Linked DNA regions of Homo sapiens. The protein of the gene in region 2 purifies or fractionates together with the protein of the main gene of each other region. This does not show direct contact. Each region holds a gene or a part of one and is shown on either strand. Other genes may lie near its edges.

What was found.
Region 1: the proteins of ACSM3 (region 2) and NUDT19 purify together in Homo sapiens (affinity purification with mass spectrometry; one large-scale study listed by BioGRID and IntAct). This does not show direct contact.

The regions. Positions count from the first base shown.
Region 1 is NC_000019.10:32,698,122-32,701,941, reverse strand, and holds part of NUDT19 (acyl-coenzyme A diphosphatase NUDT19 precursor), read right to left. Parts: intron 2,258-3,820; exon of another isoform or gene 1,795-2,257; intron 1-1,794. UniProt on the Homo sapiens protein: Fatty acyl-coenzyme A (CoA) diphosphatase that hydrolyzes fatty acyl-CoA to yield acyl-4'-phosphopantetheine and adenosine 3',5'-bisphosphate.
Region 2 is NC_000016.10:20,784,226-20,788,045, forward strand, and holds part of ACSM3 (acyl-coenzyme A synthetase ACSM3, mitochondrial), read left to right. Parts: intron 1-758; coding exon 759-882; intron 883-1,852; coding exon 1,853-1,933; coding exon of another isoform or gene 1,934-2,026; exon of another isoform or gene 2,027-2,089; intron 2,090-3,820. UniProt on the Homo sapiens protein: Catalyzes the activation of fatty acids by CoA to produce an acyl-CoA, the first step in fatty acid metabolism. Capable of activating medium-chain fatty acids with a preference for isobutyrate among fatty acids with 2-6 carbon atoms.

The DNA.
Region 1 (3,820 bases), on a different chromosome or scaffold from region 2:
GAACTCAGGTGATCAGCCCTCCTTGGCCTCCCAAAGTGTTGGGATTATAGGTGTAAGCCACTGCACCCAGCCAGAAACACACTTTAAATAATAAAGACACAGATAGTTTAAAAGGATAGAAAAATATACTAACATGAATCAAAAGAAAGTCAGAGGGGCTATATTAATATCAAACAGAGTAAACTTCAGATTTCAGAATAAAGATTATAACCAGGAATAAAGAAGGATATTTCATAATCATCAAAGAGTTAATCCATGAACTTTTAAAAGTCCTAAATGTAGATACAGTCAGTACCTTACATGGGAGCTTCAAAATACATGAAGCCAAATCTGATAGAACTAAAAGGTGAAAAAGACAACTCCACAATTATTAGTTGAAGATTTCCACATTCCTCTCTCAGCACCTGATGAAACAAGGAAATGATATAGAAGACTTGCAAGACTGGCCAGGCACAGTGGCTCACGCCTGTAATCCCAGCACTTTGGGAGGCCCAGACAGGTGGATCACCTGAGGTCAGGAGTTGGCCTGACCAACCCAGTGAAACCCGTCCCTACTAAAAATACAAAAATTAGCTAGGCATGGTGGCAGGCGCCCGTAATCCCAGCTGCTTGGGAGACTGAGGAAGGAGAATCGCTTGAACCTGGGAGGCAGAGGTTTCAGTGAGCCAAGATCAGACCACTGCATTCCAGCCTGGGTGACAGAGCAAGACTCTGTTTCAAAAAAAAAAAAAAAAAAAAAAAACCTGCAAGATGCTATGAACAACTCAACCTAATTTTACATTTTTACCAAAATACCAACAAATAGCAGAATACATATTCTTCTTAGGTGCAAAGGGAACATTCACCAAGATAGAACATATTCATGGCCATAAAACAAGTCTCAATAATTTTTTTTTTTTTTTGAGAAAGGGCCTGACTCTGTTGTCCAGGCTGAAGTGCAGTGGTGTGATCATAGCTCACTGCAGCCTCAACCTCCCAGGCTCAAGGGATCCTCTCACCTCAGCTTCCTCAGTAACAGGAACCACAGGCATGTACCACCATGCCCAGCTAAGTTTTAAAATTTTTTCTAGATATGAGGTCTTAGTATGTTACAGTCCAGGCAGGTCTTGAGTTCTTGAGCTCAATTGATCCTCTGGCCTTCTTCTCCCAAAATGCTGAGATTATAGGTATCAGTCACTGTACTGGCCAATAAATTTTAAAAGACTGAAACTGGCCAGGCACAGTAGCTTATGCCAATAATCCCCAAGACTTTGGGAGGCTGAAGCTGGACGGTCGCTTGAGGCCAGGAGTTCAAGACCTCCCTGAGCAACATAGTGAGATCCGGTCTCTACAAAAAATAAAACAATTAGCCAAGCGTGGTTGCAGGTGCCTGTGGGCCCAGCTACCCGGGAAGCTGAGACGAGAATCACTTCAGCCCAGTGAGAGGTGAAGCCAGCTGGACTTCCTGGGTCGAGTGGGGACTTGGAGAACTTTTCTGTCTAGCTAAAGGTTTGTAAATGCACCAATCAGCACTCTGTAAAAATGCACCAATCAGCACTCTGTGTCTAGCTCAAGGTTTGTAAACGCACCAATCAGTACTCTGTAAAAACGCACCAATCAGCACTCTGTGTCTAGCTAAAGGTTTGTAAATACACCAATTAGCACTCTGTAAAAACGGACCAATCAGCACTGTGTAAAATGGACCACTCAGCACTCTGTAAAATGGACCAATCAGCGCTCTGTAAAATGGACCAATCAGCAGGATGTGGGCAGGGCCAAATAAGGGAATAAAAGCTGGCCACCCAAGCCAGCAGCAGCAACCCGCTCGGGTCCCTTTCCATGCTGTGGAAGCTCTGTTCTTTTGCTCTTCGCAATAAATCTTGCTGCTGCTCACTCTTTGGGTTTACACTACCTTTATGAGCTGTAACACTCACCGCGAAGGTCTGCAGCTTCACTCCAAGCCAGCGAGACCAGGAACGCACCAGGAGGAACAAACAACTCCAGACATGCCACCTTTAAGAGCTGTAACACTCACTGCAAAGGTCTGTGGCTTCACTCCTAAAGTCAGTGAGACCACGAACCCAACGAAAGAAACTCCGGACACATCTGAATATCTGAAGGAACAAACTCCAGACACACCATCTTTAAGAACTGTAACACTCACCGCAAGGGTCTGCAGCTTCATTCTTGAAGTCAGCGAAACCAAGAACCCACCAGAAGGAACCAATTCTGGACACATTTTGGTGACCACGAAGGGACTATTACCTATCACTAAGCGGTGAGTGCCTTTGGACCCCTTTCGCTTGCTATTCTGTCCTATTTTTCCTTAGAATTTGAGAGCTAAATATGGGGACATGTTGGCCAGTTAAAAGCGACTAGTGTGGCTGCTGAACTAAAGACACGGGTGTCAGGCTTTCTGGGAAAGGGCTAACAACCCCCGACTCTTCGGAGTGGGGAGCGTTGGTTTGCCTGGAACCAGCTTCTGCTTTTCCTGTACTTCTGGGCTGAGCCGAGGGTCGACAGCGAGGAAAGCCATTCAGCTCCGGGGTCCCGACAACAAGTTGGTTGACCCTGCAGCCATGAATGGAACTCTGAAAGTCACGTCGCACAGGCGAGACTCACCCATCTATCCTATCTATCCTGACCCTTGCCTCCTGGGTCCTAATGCCTGTCAGACAAACTTCCTCTCGCCTTTCTTTGAGGCTAGTCCCACTTCTAAAAACCACTCCATCTCTGGTGCTTTTCTAGTTTCTCCTGTAAGAATGATTTCTAGGATAAACTTCAGGACTCTGTTACCTTCTTTAGACACCCGGGCTCACCAATCAGAAAGACACAGTTTTTGCTCAAAGCCCCATCGTAGGGGGGATTATCTGGAATTTTAGAATCCCTCCTCAGAAAAGCAGGCCTAACAAAAGCTATTCCTGAAACTAGGATATCGGGAGCCTCAGAAATTGTATCCTTCCTATTCATATAACTGGGGATAAAAGGCTTCACTCTTCCAACTCTGGAGATCCCTTCCCTCCCTCAGGGTATGGCCCTCCACTTCATTTTGGGGGCATAACATCTTTATAGGACATGGGTAAGGTCCCAATACTAACAGGAGAATGCTTAGGACTCCAACAGTTTTCCAAGAATGCATCAGTAAGGGCCACTAAATCTGATTTTTCTCAGTCCTCTTTGAGGTCTAGGAGGACAGGAAAGGGCGCAGGTTTTCGAGAATGTGTTGGTAAGGGCCACGAAATCTGACCTTCCTCATTCCTCCTTGTGGTCTAGGAGAACTAGTGTTTCTGCTGCTGTGTCAGTGAGCACAACCATTCTGATCAGCAGGGTCCAGGGACTGTTGCGGGTTCTTGGGCAGGGGTTGTTTCTGCTGCTGCGTTGGTGAGCACAACTACTCCAATCAGCAGGGTCCGGGGACTGTTGCAGGTTCTTGGGCAAGAGGTGTTTCTGCTGCTGCATTGGTGAGCACAACTATTCCGATCAGCAGGGTCCAGGGACCGTTGCAGGTTCTTGGGCAGGGGGAGAAACAAACAAACCAAAACCACAGGCGGTTTTGTCTTTCAGATGGGAAACACTCAGGCATCAACAGGCTCACCCTTGAAATGCATCCTAAGCCACTGGGACCAATTTGACCCACAAACCCTGAAAAAGAGGTGGCTCATTTTTTTCTATACTACAGCCTGGCCCCAATTTCTCTCTCTGATGGGGAAAAATGGCCACCTGAGGGAAGTATAAACTACAGTACTATCCTGCAGCCTGACCTTTTCTGTAAGAGGGAAGGCAAATGGAGTGAAATACCTTATGTCTAAGTTTTCTTTTCATTGAAGGAGAATACCCAAGT
Region 2 (3,820 bases):
AGCTAGTTATTTCAATATAAATATTAAGTAAAATTAAAAATTCAATTCCTCAGTTATACTAGTCCTGTTTCTAGTGTTCAATATCCATATAGGGCTAGCATATACTGTAGTGGGTACAGCAGATTACAGAGTACTTCCATATAACAGAAAGTTCTACTGGGCAGCACTGTCCAAGAGCTTCCTCATTTTTCATAGCTGTATAGTATTCCATTGTATAAATATCCCACCATCAGTTTTACCAAACAATTGGTACTTTTCATTGCTGATTTAAAGTGTTATTATGGTGCTCACTTCAGCAGTACATACACTAAAATTGGAATGATACAGAGCAGATTAGCATGGCCCCTGCACAAGGATGACATGCAAATTTTTGAAGCATTCCATGAAAACATAAAAATAAAAACAAAATAAAATAAAATGTTATTATGGGGTACCTTCCCTAAGAACAGAATGACCTTCTTTGTAATAAATTATACCTCCACCACAAAAAGGGGGGTAAAGAAAAACTAGTATTTGGGGTATTCTAGTATCATTCTATGATATTAGAATGATTTATCTTTTTAATATCTTTATTTTTAATTTGTGTAGGTACTTAGTAGTTGTATATGTTTATGGGGTAAAATGGTTTGTTTTGTGCTAGGGAGAGGAATTAAAAAGCGACTAAAACATTTTATATTGAAGTTCATAAGAAATAATCCTTAATCTTCACTTCTCTCCATTTTTCCTCCTAAATCTAACTTATCTGGTTTTCTGAGAAGCTATAAGTTTAAAAGCTTAAAGCACTGTGTGAGTGCTGGGGAACCAATTACCCCTGACGTGACTGAAAAATGGAGAAACAAGACGGGCCTGGATATCTACGAAGGATATGGACAGACTGAAACGGTACCTGACCTCACTGAAAAGACATAGCTGGATTCCATTTAGTCAGATGAATAAAAACCAAAGTGTCCACAGTCTCCTTATGATTATTTGAGGGATAGGAGTTGAGTGGTTAGAAAATGTTTAAAAAAACAATGCTTGCAAGAACCTAATTGCAAAAAAGCTCTGTTAACAGATAGTTGTTTAAATAGCCATTCATTGACAAACACCACTGTTAATGGATCAGAGTAAGGGCATTACAATATTTTTTTAAATGAAATAATACTGGATCTACTGAAAGAAAGAATTCCTCCCAGTGTGATAGGGAAGTATCTTATTTAGGGCTGCCTCAAAATGGAAAATGCTGAGATCCTTGCTGCCTGAAATATTAAGAGTTTGCTGGACAACTCCTTAGCAACCATACTCTAAAAAGGATTTTTTAAAGAGCTCATAGAGATAAGGAATAAGAAATTCTAGAGGAAATGAATGAAATAAGAACAAAAAATGAAATAAGAACAAAAAATGAAATAAGAAAAAAGAACAACAGTGGTTATTTTGTAGAAGAGGGAGGAGTAAGATGAAATAGATAAGGGAAAAGTTGAAAAAACTTTTCACAATGTGTCTTTATAATGCTTCAATTTATGAACCATGAGAATGTATCACCTGGTAAAAAATGAAAATATCAAAAATAAAAATCAAAAATTGAAAAATTCATTAACTAGAAATAGCATAACAAGTATGCTAATATAAATGCAAATGTTAATATACTCATGTTTTGATAAATATGGATATATGAGTAATTATTGTTATAACTATATTTTATACATATGCATGTATTTATATGTTATCACTACATTCCATGAGAGTATAGCATTCATTTTGAGCCTAGTTCATAGTAAGTTTTCAATAAATAATTTGTTGAATGAATGCATGATAGATGAATAAATTTTAAGTGACTTGTAATGTTATCTTACTTTTTCTTCTTCTTAACTAGGTGCTAATCTGTGGAAATTTTAAGGGAATGAAAATTAAACCTGGCTCAATGGGAAAACCTTCTCCTGCTTTCGATGTTAAGGTTTGCACATCCCCTTCCAGGAGAATGTTTAACAACCCAATCTGTACACTACCTACCTACCGCTTACCCCCATATAAACTTTCTTTGTTATGATGGTGATTCCATTTTACTTCCATGATACTTTAATTTTTATAAATATGTGAAAATGATTAGAAATGTTAGCTTCTTGGTCTCCATTATTTTGCAAATACCCATATTGTACCATACAGTTCTAAGCATTTAATAAACGTTAACCCATTAGGCTGGATGCAGTGGCTCACGCCTGTAATCCCAACACTTTGGGAGGCCAAGGCGGGAGCATCACTTGAGCCCAGGAGTTCAAGACCAGCCTGGGCAACAACGTGAGACTTTGTCTCTACAAAAAAATATAAAAAACTAGCCAGGCATGGTGGTACGTGCCTGTGGTCCCAGCTACTCAGAAGGCTGAGATGGGAGGATTGCTTGAGCCTGGGAGCTTGGGGCTGCAGTGAGCCATGATCACACCACTGCACTCTAACCTGGGCCACAGAGCAAGACCCTGTCTCTAAATAAATAAATATTAACCCATTGAATTTCCAGAAGAAACCCTATGAGAAGCATACTAATATTAGAACCATTTTACAAACAAGGCACAAAGAGGTAAAAGAACTCACCAGAAGTCACACAGCTAATAGCTGCTAGAGTTGGGATTCAATCCCAAGCAGTCTGGCTCCAATATCTGCACTCTTAACCACAACACAACACTGGTCCTCTCAGGCAAGGGAGGTCAAGACCTTCTGAGCGGGTCAACTAGGCCCGAAGAGGCTTCAGTTTACAGTGGCTGCAGCACTTTCCCTCTCTGCTCCCAAGCCTGCCTGGCCATTTCCAGCCTCTCTGTATCCACTGCCACTACTACCACCTGATGCCTAGGGGGAATTCCAGTTCCCCATCAGCAAGCTTTATATAGGGTTAAAATTGTTCTCAGATCAACCGAGCTTCAAAGCTGGGTGTAGCCAAAGGAACTTAACACTAATTTGGACACTCCTCAACTTATGATAGGGTTATGTCCCAAAATAATAAGTCATCATAAGTTGAAAACATCCTAAGTCACAAATGCATGGCTGACTGGGAGCTGTGACTTACTGTTGCTGCCCAGCATCTAGAGAGAAAGATGGTTTCAACTGAATGGTTATCTTTTTCACCCATTGTAAAGTTGGGAAATAGTAAGTTCGAACCATTTTAATTCAGAGACCCATCTGTACGTTAAGAGACAGCAAAAGCAGCAAAAATATGGATGAATTAACAGAGTACAGCTCTTAGATAAATGTTTCCCAAGCTTGTTTGATCATAAACATCATATGGATATCTGTTAAAAATACTAATTCTCAGGCCCCTGGAGAGACCAATTCAATAGATTTGGAGTGGAACTCTGAAATTTGAAATCTTGTGATTTTAACAAGCACCCCCCAAGTAGTTTTTAGGATCAAATAAGTTTGAGAGAGTTTAGATGAGCTTGATTGCTGCTGTAACTCTTTATAGAATAAACCAGATCCTGGGTCCTTTCTCTCACTTTAACCTTGCTGTGGAAACCTGGTCTCAAGATAGGATAGCCTAGTGGTTCAACTATATCTCTGCTATTCACTGTCTGAGTGTCTGTGGGTACACTGTTAAAGCTCTGTAAGTTCCAGTTTCCTAATTTGTAAAGTTGGGACTAGAGTGACCAACCTGTCTGTTTGCCTGGGACTTATCTGGTTTTAGCACTTAAGGCAATACATCCTGAAGAACCACCCCCCGACAACCCCTCACCACTTCAGTCTCAGATGGTTGGTAAACCAAATAATAACAGAACTGATTTCATAGGTTTCTTGTGGTGATTAAAGGAGACAATATGTTTAAAGAGCATATCAGAATGCTTAGTACATAATAAAG